Linked DNA regions of Homo sapiens. The protein of the gene in region 2 purifies or fractionates together with the protein of the main gene of each other region. This does not show direct contact. Each region holds a gene or a part of one and is shown on either strand. Other genes may lie near its edges. The genes, in order: TNFRSF10B, MFSD2B and ATP11C.

What was found.
Region 1: the proteins of MFSD2B (region 2) and TNFRSF10B purify together in Homo sapiens (affinity purification with mass spectrometry; one large-scale study listed by BioGRID and IntAct). This does not show direct contact.
Region 3: the proteins of MFSD2B (region 2) and ATP11C purify together in Homo sapiens (affinity purification with mass spectrometry; one large-scale study listed by BioGRID and IntAct). This does not show direct contact.

The regions. Positions count from the first base shown.
Region 1 is NC_000008.11:23,062,515-23,066,165, forward strand, and holds part of TNFRSF10B (tumor necrosis factor receptor superfamily member 10B isoform 1 precursor), read right to left. Parts: intron 1-3,651. UniProt on the Homo sapiens protein: Receptor for the cytotoxic ligand TNFSF10/TRAIL. The adapter molecule FADD recruits caspase-8 to the activated receptor.
Region 2 is NC_000002.12:24,008,584-24,012,334, reverse strand, and holds the start of MFSD2B (sphingosine-1-phosphate transporter MFSD2B), read right to left. Parts: upstream 2,251-3,751; 5' UTR 2,239-2,250; coding exon 2,143-2,238; intron 1-2,142.
Region 3 is NC_000023.11:139,786,442-139,790,092, reverse strand, and holds part of ATP11C (phospholipid-transporting ATPase IG), read left to right. Parts: intron 1-604; coding exon 605-766; intron 767-1,749; coding exon 1,750-1,901; intron 1,902-2,848; coding exon 2,849-2,920; intron 2,921-3,651. UniProt on the Homo sapiens protein: Catalytic component of a P4-ATPase flippase complex which catalyzes the hydrolysis of ATP coupled to the transport of aminophospholipids, phosphatidylserines (PS) and phosphatidylethanolamines (PE), from the outer to the inner leaflet of the plasma membrane.

The DNA.
Region 1 (3,651 bases), on a different chromosome or scaffold from region 2:
GCCTCTACTGTTTTTCTATTCTCTGTTTTATTTATTTCTCTTCTAATAATTATTTCCTTTATAATGCTAACTCTAGGTTTGGTTCATTCTTTTTCTAATTCCTACATTTGTAAACTTAGCTCGTTGATTTAAGATCCTTCTTCTTTTTTAATTAAACCATTTCTGGCTATAAATATCATAGATGGAATCAGATACTATATATGCTTTTCTGTCTGGTTTCTTTAACTCAGCATAATTATTTTGAAATTCGGTCATATTTTCATATGCATCAGTACTCCATTCCTTTTCATTACTGAGTTGTATGGCAGAATTAATATGGTAATATTATAAAATGTAGGAGACTTGAAATAATACAGATTGATTCATCTCCACTACTCATTCTTTCTGCTATAGTTGTCTCAGGCATGTTCATATGTTACAAACCCTACAAAGTGTTATATTACTTGATAGTGAATATTTTCAAGAAATTAAGAGGAAATAATCATTCTTTATATGTGCATTCATATTTCTATTCCTGATGATCTTCCTTCTTTCCTTAAGATCCATGTTCCCAGCCAGGCAAGGTGGCTCATGCCTGTAATCCCAGCACTTTGGGAGGCCAAGGCGGTGGATCTCCTGAGGTCAGTAGTTTGAGACTGGCCTGGCCAACATGGTGAAACCCGGTCTCTACTAAAAATACAAAAATTAGCTGGGTGTGGTGGCAAGCGCCTGTAATCCCAGCTGTTCAGGAGGCTGAGGCAGGAGAATCGCTTGAACCCAGGAGGCAGAGGTTGCAGTGAGCCGAGATTGCGCCATTGCACTCCAGCCTGGGCAGCAACAGTGAAACTGTCTCAAAAAAAAAAAAAAAAATCCATGTTTCCATTTCATTTCATCTCTATTCAGATTGAAATCTTTTAGCATTTTGTGTACTGCAGGTCTATGAGCAATGACGTGCCCATACTGTCTCCAATAGCACATTCAGGTTCCTAATTCTTAAAGCCATTTATGCCCATTTACTCTTTCTTATTTGGTAATGACCTCACCCAAGTCTCAGATTAGAAACACTAGAATCCACCACAAACCTCTTTCCTCTTCTTACCAAACCCATTGCATCACCGGCCTGCGTTATCATCATTTCCCTCAGATCTGCCTCAGCTGCCACTTGCCTCCTTCACGATAATGCAACCTGACCCTCACCCTAACCACTAGGACCCATCCCGAATGCTGTCCAGGCCACACCTGAGTGCACCCACCTAGTCCACTCTCCACTGGGTGAACAATGATCTTTAATGGGTGGATCTGATGAGGGATGTCCCCGGGGAAAACTTGACAATGGCCTTGGTGACTCTGGACTTGGGTGATCCTCCGTACTCTATTCAGATCCTCTGTTCTGTCCTCAGCCTGCCTGCCACACTCCCCACCTCTCACGTTTAACACACTCTATGAGCAGGCTGAGGACACAACGTCTGGGTTAGTGCAGCTTCCTAGAATCCACGTTACTCATTCATTCATTCATGGAAGGCATGTAGGCGCCTGGCGACCGCATATGCAAGGAGCCGTGGAGTATCGGGAACATGGCACGGCCCTTCCTTTCCTTAGCACAGTTTCCATTCACAGGAGCTGAGGCACAGCCATCATTAACCCCAAAGTCCATGAACTTGCAAAGAGTCTGGAGGGGCTGCCCAGGCAGAGGTGACAAATGCCATCGGTGGCAGGGACAGTAGTGGACATAGAGGAAAGAGTGCACACAGACAGAATCCCAGACAGACAGGAATCCAGTGTAATGGGGGAGGGGAGTAAAAACAAGAGAGGTACTGCTGAATTAATATTGTAATATGATTACAAAATGTAGGAGAGTTGAAATAATATAGATCCATTCATCACCATTCACTCTTTCTGCTGTGCAGGACGAGGCTGTGCCGTCCGTGGGCCTCTCTGATTGAGGGAGAATGGGCGTGTGGCCAGAGATGCACAGCTGTGTTGGGCCACAGAAATGGGCTCATGGGGGTGTCCATGGGCATGGTTAAGAGAGAGAAGGAAAACAAGAAGAAGGGAGGTCAGGGGTTTGGCTTATTTCAGTTCTTGTCCCATTGAATTCTAGGGACCCTGCCTCCTCCCGGACATGAGCCATTGGCGGGGTTTCCCTGTCTTGTGACTCACCCACCTGTGATTCAGGCTCCTTGCTTTACACCAAGTTTGAGCATAAAACCTGCTAATATTTCTCGTCAAAAATTAACCCGAGTAACCTCTTCTTTCCTCTCTGAGTCACCCACATCCTTAAAACTGCCCAGGATAATCACAGTTCCTGCATAGGTTGTTGTGTGAACTGAAAGTGTTAATATGTATGGAAAGTGCTTAAAACACAGAACTTTAAACACATGCTCTGATTAGTACGATCATTACCCTCAATGTTGATTTTAAGCAAACCATATTATCCTGGCCAAACTACCATGACCTGGAGCCTTGGGACTGCACAGCCTCCCTCTGTCAGTCAAATATGGAGGGATGACATCTCTGGAGCCAGCACAGCCACTCTGGAGGTGGGGGAGGTGACAGTGGTGGGACCTCATGCTTCCTGATAGTTATTTAGGTCCCTGCTGTCACCTGCTCCACCAGACTGTGGGCTCCAGGGAGTAGTCAGTATTCACACAGGGCTCATTTGTCCTTCCCCAACCCAGGCACAGATTTTCCCAGAGTAAAGGGTTCCTCCTCTACCTGATGAATGAATCACTCCTGTCCCCGCCGCCAAGCACATGCAGTGAGACTAGCTGTGGCCTCAGCTCACTGCGTAAGGACAGCCTCCAGCTACAGCAGGGGCAGAGGACCCTGTAGAGCTCTGTAGTCTCTGTTGAGAACCACAGGCAGGAACTCCCAGAGGCCAAGTGCAGGGCAGAGACTGGGAGAAGCAGCTGCCTGGAGGACTCTGGATCCTTGCAGAAGACATGTCCAGTGTCTGCTGAGACTGACTCTAGGTGCCTGAGAAGAAGCCACCCAGGGAAGGAGAGACTAGATTGTGGACCACTCAGGGCTGGGAGATCTGCATGTTCCCCTTCCCACAGTGGACAGAACGCATGCCAGGGTGCTGGCGAGTTACCATCAGAAGTCAACCACTATAACTTTAGTAGTTAACTAAATGAGCCCCTGAATAAGGCAACTGAACACAAGGTATATAGTTATATGTAGATAAAAGCTAGTATCAGAGGAGCAAACTGATCCTCAGTTTTCTGTGACCAGAATAATGCCCAATAGACTTTGAAAGAACACAGTGATGTTCGGTACCCAAGAAAGCAAAATTCACAATGTCAAGCAATAAGAAATTACTATGCATGAAAAAAAAAGTCCCTATGGGCAGGAAAAAAAATGTAATCAACAGAAACAGTGGCCGTAATAACAGATATAATGGTGTTGATAGATTAAATAACTTAAAACAGGTCATCTAAAGCTTACAAATATACTCAAGAATATTTAAAAAACAGAAAAACAAAAAACACCACCACCAAAATCATAGGTTGCGCACGGTGGCTCAGGCCTGTAATCCCAATACTTTGGGAGGACAAGGTGGGAGGATTCCTTGAGCGCAGGAGTTTGAGACCAGCCTGGGCAACATGGTGAAACCCCGTCTCTACTAAAAATACAAAAATTAGCCAGGTGTGGTTGCAAGTGCCTGTGGTC
Region 2 (3,751 bases):
GCAGAGGTTGCAGTGAGCAAATATCACACCACTGCACTCCAGCCTGGGTGACAGAGACTCAGTCATAAATAAATAAATAAATAATCAGATCCCATCTCCTCTCTGATTAAAACTCTCCAATGGCTTGCTATTGCAGGGTTTTTTTGTCTGTTTTTGTGTGTGTGTGTGTGTGTGTGTGTGTGTTTTGTTTGTTTGTTTGTTTGTTTCCAGATCCATGGTATTCAGTCAATACCATTGCAGTTTGAATAAAACTCCAAGTCCTGATCATGGCTAAGGAGTCCACCCAGTCGGCCCCCTACCCACCTCACCTCAAATAGCTCTCCTTCAGCCACGCCGGGCTCCTTCCTATTCCTCAAAATCATCAAGTCTGTTGCTGCCTCAGGGCCTTTGCCCTTCCCATTCCTCTGCCTGGAAGGTGACTCCTTGTCATTCTGGTTTGATGTCACCAGCTTAAATGTCACCTCCTCCAAGAGGCATTCCCTAACCTCTCACCTCTCTCAGTTGTACTTACCGCCTGCTATATTTTCATTTAGTTCCTGCCTCTCCCTACAGGAATGTAAGCTCTCTGAGAGCATGAACTCCACCTTTTATTTATCATGGTGTTTCCAGTACCTAGAACAAAGCTTGGTATACAGTAGGTGCTTAGTATATATCCGTTGAAGCAATAAATGGCCATGAAGACCCTGTGTAAAGTGCTGTTTCTTTGGAAGAAGCTGGGCTCTTTTCTCATCGTTTGCTGGGGGCTGGAGGGAGTGGAGATGACATGGCTTCACCCATTTCCACATCTTGCAGGACACCCCAGCAGGCTCTTGTGAAGGGAAGGTCTCCCCAGATAAGGGTTTATCACACTTTGCACACTCTTCCTACCCACAGGGGAAAACCACACTGGGGGCAGGATGATTCTTTTCTGACATTTGTGTGAACATCATTTCAGCTTCCAGAAAACTTTAAGAACAGGCAGAATTCAACGTGACAGTCCCCCTCTCCCCCTAATGGGGACTCTTGTATCCCCCAAAACAGGCCTAGCAAGTTTTTAGAACTTTAGAAAGAACTTCCAAGTGAAGCCAGGGATATGATCCCATCTTGCCGTCTTGAGGATGACAGTTTTACCGAAAGTCATAAAAGCCCGGTACAGCTGTACAGTGAGCTGTACAAGGAGAAGCCCCTTGGGAGGGGCGGCTCCGGGCGAGGGGCGCAGCCCTGCTATCTCTAGCTGCGTGACCCAGGGCAGGGCACCTCGGTCTCCTTGGAGTGACCGGGGCTGCCACCCCTCGGAGAGTCGTAAGAGGATTCCACGCCGGAACTTCATCAGCAATGCGAGTGTTTCCCTCTTGCTGTTAATCTCACCCTGAATTTCTAAGTTTCCCTGGGAAGTGAGAGTCCCCGGAGAGCCCCTTCATCTCACCTCACTTTCTTGTGGGATGCAATCCTGTGCTCCCAGGTGCCTCGTAGGAAGCCCTGAACAGGCTGGGGGCTGAGGTGGTCAGGGGAGGCCACAGAATGCCCTGGGCACGAGCAGGGAGCAGGCGCGTTCAGTGAGGCCCAGGAAGCCCCAGGCCCCTTGCTCCGTCCAGCACAGCCCCACTGGCCAGCACGGCCCGGCGGCATCGGGCAAGGGACAAGGGGCCCCGAAGACCCCGCCGCTCCCACCTGCCCTCCTCCCTTCTTGTCGGAGCCCATGGCCAGGACCTTCCCTGAGGCTGCCTCCAAGGGGAGCCTGGTGCCTGGGCGAGGCCAGGGTCTGGGAGGGAGGCCGAGGCCACAGCAGCTGCCTGAGGTCGGGAAGGACGCAGCCTCCCCAGGCGCTTCAGAAAGCCCTGCCTGCCCAGAGCTCGGGGACCCCGGGAGGACCTGCGGTGGCACGGACAAGACCCCTAAGCCGGGAATCAGGACAGCAATGACCACGCATCCCCAAGTTACTTCCTTGGCTAGGGCTAGGCTTCCCGTCCTAGTCTCTTTCCGGCGCCGGCACCTACCAGCCTCCCCGCTCCCAGCCGTGTAACCCCGCGAGGGCAGCCCCTGAGCTGGCAGGTTTGGGCCGAGCCCCTCCGGGCTGCCCCCAGCTGGAAAAGGGGCTGCGAGGCGACGCCCTGGAGCTCCCCGAGGACGCAGCCCCTTCCCGGTCCCCGCCGCCCCGCTCACCTCTCGCCCTCGCTTGGCGCTCCCCGGGCCGGGCTCTGGGGCGTGCGGCTCCGGCTGCGGGGACCCCTTGGCGGCTGGTGCAGGGGGCGCCGCCATTGCCACCGCAGCGCCGCCCGCGGCCGTTGCCCTCGGGGTTATCGCCCTTGGGAGGGGCGGTTCTGGGCTAGGGGCGCGGCGCGAGTGGCTGCTGGCAACGCGGGGGAAACGCAGAAACCGCGAAGGGCACCCCAAAGGGAAACAGCGAAGAACCAAAATCCGCGGGGGGAAAGGCCCGGCAGGCCCTCAGGACCGTTCTCCTTGGGGTGGATCCCCGGGGGCGTGAGCGCCCGCAGACGGCGGCCCTGCGCGCTAAGGGCTCCGCCAGACCGCTGGGGTGACCGCGGGCAAGCAGCAGCTCCCCTGCAAAATGAAGCAAGAGGCCCGCTCGTTCAGGCTGGACCATGGCTGAACAGGCATTCCGCCGGCTACACATGATGCCCAACGCCTGAAATATACATTGTCGAGTCTCCTATACAGACCACGGGGATGGCCAGTAACTAAGTTCTGGCCAGCGAATAAAAGCAGGTGGCACAGGCCAACATTCCAGAAAAGTCCTTAAAAGGGAAGGGGGGTGACAGCAGGTAGCTAGTCAGCCTCGAAAAGGGCAGGAGAGGGCCACGCTTCCAACCAGGTACGTCAGGCAACCATCAGGCGACAGTCAGGCGGTTGTTATGCTCCCTCTAAAATGATCATTGATCCAGCGGGGCCAGGGAAAGGCAGTCTCCCAATAGATAGAGAAAACCTGAAACTGGTGATCAGCTTCTCGGTAAGATCTCAGGAGCTGGGCAAGTGGGCTTACACAAATTGCGGAGTTTAACTGACATGTGACCCTCGAAGGACACCGGACTGGTAAGGGAAGAACGCCTCCAGTGAGCATGGGTACAACTCCAGTATACACAGTGTGCACACTCCCCTCCCAAGTGCTGGCAGACCACTGCCCATGCAGGCAGGCCTCCCAAGGGAAGAATCAGGGGAGAAGGGATGCAAGACCCCAGAAGTATGCCAATGCATAAGACCCCAGGTCAAAAGGTCAAACTGTGCGCTTCTTTTTCAGGTCACCCGCTTGGCCCTCTTCCAAGTGTACTTTCCTTCCTTCCATTTCTGCTGTAGAGCTTTTTAATAAACTTTTATTCCTGCTCTAAAACTTGCCTCAGTCTCTCCTTCTGCCTTATGCCCCTCAGTGGAATTCTTTCTTCTGAGGAGGCAGGAACTGAGGTTGCTGCAGACCCATATAGATTCACTCCTGCTGACATATTTTGGTGCCACGTGACTCAGATACCTTCCACCAGTAACAGGGGTACACATTAACTAAAAATGCATCATAGACCTAGAATGTAAAACTTATGAAAAAACAGGAGCAAGGGACAGGCACGGTGGCTCATGCCTGTAATCCCAGCTACTCGGCAGGCTGAGGCAGGAGAATCGCTTGAACCCGGGAGGCGGAGATTGCAGTGAGCCAAGATCGTGCCACTGCATTCCAGCCTGGGTGACAGAGGGAGACTCTGTCTCAAAAACAAAAACAAAAACAAAACCAACCAAACACAAAAAACCCAGAAGCAACTCTTCATCA
Region 3 (3,651 bases), on a different chromosome or scaffold from region 2:
AGGTTAACTTAAATGAGAAGCGTTCTTAGTTTGATAAAATAGTCACTTTTTTTTTTTTTTCCTGAGACAGAGTCTCACTCTATCACCCAGGTTGGAGTATAGTGATGTGATCTCAGCTCACTGCAACCTTTGTCTCCTGGATTCAAGCAATTCTTGTGCCTCAGCCTCCCAAGTAGCTGGGATTTCAGGTGTGTGCCACCACACCCAGCTAATTTTTGTATTTCTAGTAGAGACGGGGTTTCACCATGTTGGCCAGGCTGGTCTTGAACTCCTGAGCTCAAGCAATCCTCCTGCCTCAGCCTCCCAAAGTGCTGGGACTACAGGCATAAGCCACCGTGCCTGGCCAATAGTCACATTTTTTTCTATTCATCTTTTACATTTGAGTAGATCTACCTTAGACATGTGATAGCATTTTGGTGTCTTTAAAAATACTCATTTATTCCTCATTTCTTTGGTAATATTGTCTCTGTAATTCCCTGACATTTGACAAGAAGTCTTAGAAGGGGTGATTTCCTATGGATATGAAAATAGCTTTGCGTTACAGCAAACTAAAAATTAGTCACACTGAAGAAACTAACAATATATGTTTGTGTCCTTGTTTTAGGTGGATTATGTATTTACAGATAAGACTGGAACACTCACTGAAAACAGCATGGAATTCATTGAATGCTGCATAGATGGCCACAAATATAAAGGTGTAACTCAAGAGGTTGATGGATTATCTCAAACTGATGGAACTTTAACATATTTTGACAAAGTAGATAAGGTGCATTTGCATTATTGTTTTATATAAGAAACCAATCTGTGTATGCATGTTAACATTCCATAGTAGAAAATAATTTTTAGGTGGACACATGACATAGACTTTTGTGTTTTTGTTTTTTTTTTTTGAGATGGAGTCTCACTCTGTTGCCCAGGCTGGAGTACGGTGGCATGATCTCAGCTCACTGCAACCTCCGCTTCCCAGGTTCAAGCGATTCTCCTGCCTCAGCCTCCCGAGTAGCTGGGATTACAGGCGCCTGCCACCATGCCTGGCTAATTTTTTTGTATTTTTAGTAGAAACGGAGTTTCACCATGTTGGTCAGGCTGGTCTCAAACTCCTGACCTCAGGTAATCCACCACCCTCCGTCCCCCAAAGTGCTGGGATTACAGGCATGAGCCACTGTGCCCAGTGACTTTAGAATAACTATTGTTGGATTCACCTTTCTTGTTTTACTGACACTTCTGAAATTTGTAAATGAGTAGAATTTACAAGTAAAGAGAATTGTGGGAAATGACATTTGGGTAAAAGCTTGCTTGTCTGTATGATCATAATTTTTTGTGCTTTGTCTTTTAAAATGTAAGCTCCTCCAAGAATGATGTCTGTTCAAATGATTAAAGTCTCAGGAGTGTCTAGGCATTAAATTAACCAGAGTCTCCCTACACTTGAGCTATTGCTAGATTGTGAATTAGATACTGAATGAAGTTTTTTAGGCCATGAAGAAGTCACTGCTTTGGCTTAGGTGGTGCCACAATAACCTTAATGAGTTAACACAGCCTATAGGGTATGCTAGCTGAGAACCAGGAACTCTTATTAGGTACTAGGAGAATATATAGCAGATTTGAGTGTTAAGAATTTATACGTATCTGCTACTAAGTTTGTTAGAAGTTACAACATTCTCTCACATTAATATATTTTCTCCGTTCACTGCCTAGTTACCGGGTGATCAAATTAAAAATAATAATCATTATTTTGTTGCTGTTCCACAGAATCGAGAAGAGCTGTTTCTACGTGCCTTGTGTTTATGTCATACTGTAGAAATCAAAACAAACGATGCTGTTGATGGAGCTACAGAATCAGCTGAATTAACCTATATCTCCTCTTCACCAGATGAAATAGCTTTGGTGAAAGGAGCTAAAAGGTAAAGTATACTTTCTTATACTTCTCCTAAGAAAGTGAAATCACAGGAGGACAGAAGTTATTTGTTTTTTTCCGTTTGCTTCAGTGACCTTAGCACATACATCTCCTATTATTTAATAAAAAACACAACTGCTTTAGCCAAAAATTTGTGGAAAATTCCCACACCTAACCAGTTAAGACTAAAAAGAAAATAGTTACAGGTAGGTATTACTTGCCTTACTATTTATGCATGCCAGCCAGAAGTCTGAATGTTCATACTATGTTTTGCAAATAACATAACAGTGGCCACTTTTTGTACAACACATGTTATTTCTGAGGTGCTCCCAGCAATTTTGACATCATTTGAGAACCGAAAGTCCAGTTTTACCCATGAGGTTCAAGATAATTAAGTGGCTCAAAGGTCACCCAGTGTGTTAGCCGTAGAATCAGAAACCCAAATTGTCTCTCCCTTGGTTACAATAATTGTGGCTGGGCATTGACTTTCTCTGTTATCAACTTATCCAGGAAAAGAAAGTACAGTTATATGTTGAGATCATATGAAAGAGAAGAAAAGCATAAACAAGCATGAGTTACCCCATTGAAAGTAATCATTCTAGACCAGGTGCGGTGGCTCACGCCTGTAATCCCAGCACTTTGGGAGGCCAAGGCGGGTGGATCACCTGAGGTCAGGAGTTCAAGACCAGCCTGGCCAACATGGTGAAACTCTGTCTCTACTAAAAATACAAAAATCAGCCGGGTGTGGTGACACACACCTGTAATCTCAGCTACTCAGGAGGTTGAGGCAGGAGAATCGCTTGAAACTGGGAGGTGAAGGTTGCAGTGAGCCGAGATCGCGCCACTGCACTCCAGCCTGGGCAACAGAGCGAGACTCTGTCTCAAAAAAAATAATAATAAAAAAATTAATCATTCTTTAGAGATACACAAGGTCTTTTTTATTGTTTTTGATAGGTACGGGTTCACATTTTTAGGAAATCGAAATGGATATATGAGAGTAGAGAACCAAAGAAAAGAAATAGAAGAGTAAGTAGCTCTGTGTTTGATGTTTGTCATTTCTTAACCCCATAGTCAAATTTAAGTGGATTCAGGCAGGGCAGCAAAGGAAATGATGCCACTAAAAATACAGGACCCTGCTCTCCCAGTTCAGAGTTTTATGTAAATATAGTTGGGGTAGAAGCCATGTTACATAGAATTGCAGAAACTGGAGTTTGAGGTGGAAATTCCAATCTGGTTCACATCTGGGTCCAGTAGCCAGAATGAGAGTTTGCCTGGAATGTTTCTCAAATTTAGATGCCATTTCAGGTCTCTAACACATGCTACAGGAAAAATCAGTGAATATATGTGAAACCTTCTGCTATCTAGTGTCCAAGCAATCACTCTGGGATTGCAAGCCCAGGCAATAAAGGCAGCTTTGCTGTAAACCAGAAGCCTTGTTTGGTTCGGAATGTTCAGGTGTGAGCCTCGGGGCAAGTACTCTGATGCTCCAGTGTCTTCACATTTCCTCTTTTGCCACAAAGACCCTAATGAACAAAGCCACCTTATCTTAATGGTGGATTTTAATTAGGCTCTGTGATTAATTTGAATTTCCTCATCTGAACTTGAAATATAATTATGTTATCTGACTTTCATTCTGGCCCCTAGGATCTCCTGAGACCCATCTCAGAAACCTGTAATATGTTTACAGGTACTTGGGTAATGCACCCTTTTGGAGAGAGATTCATAGAAGCCCAGAGGAAGGTTCTTGGTCTGACTGA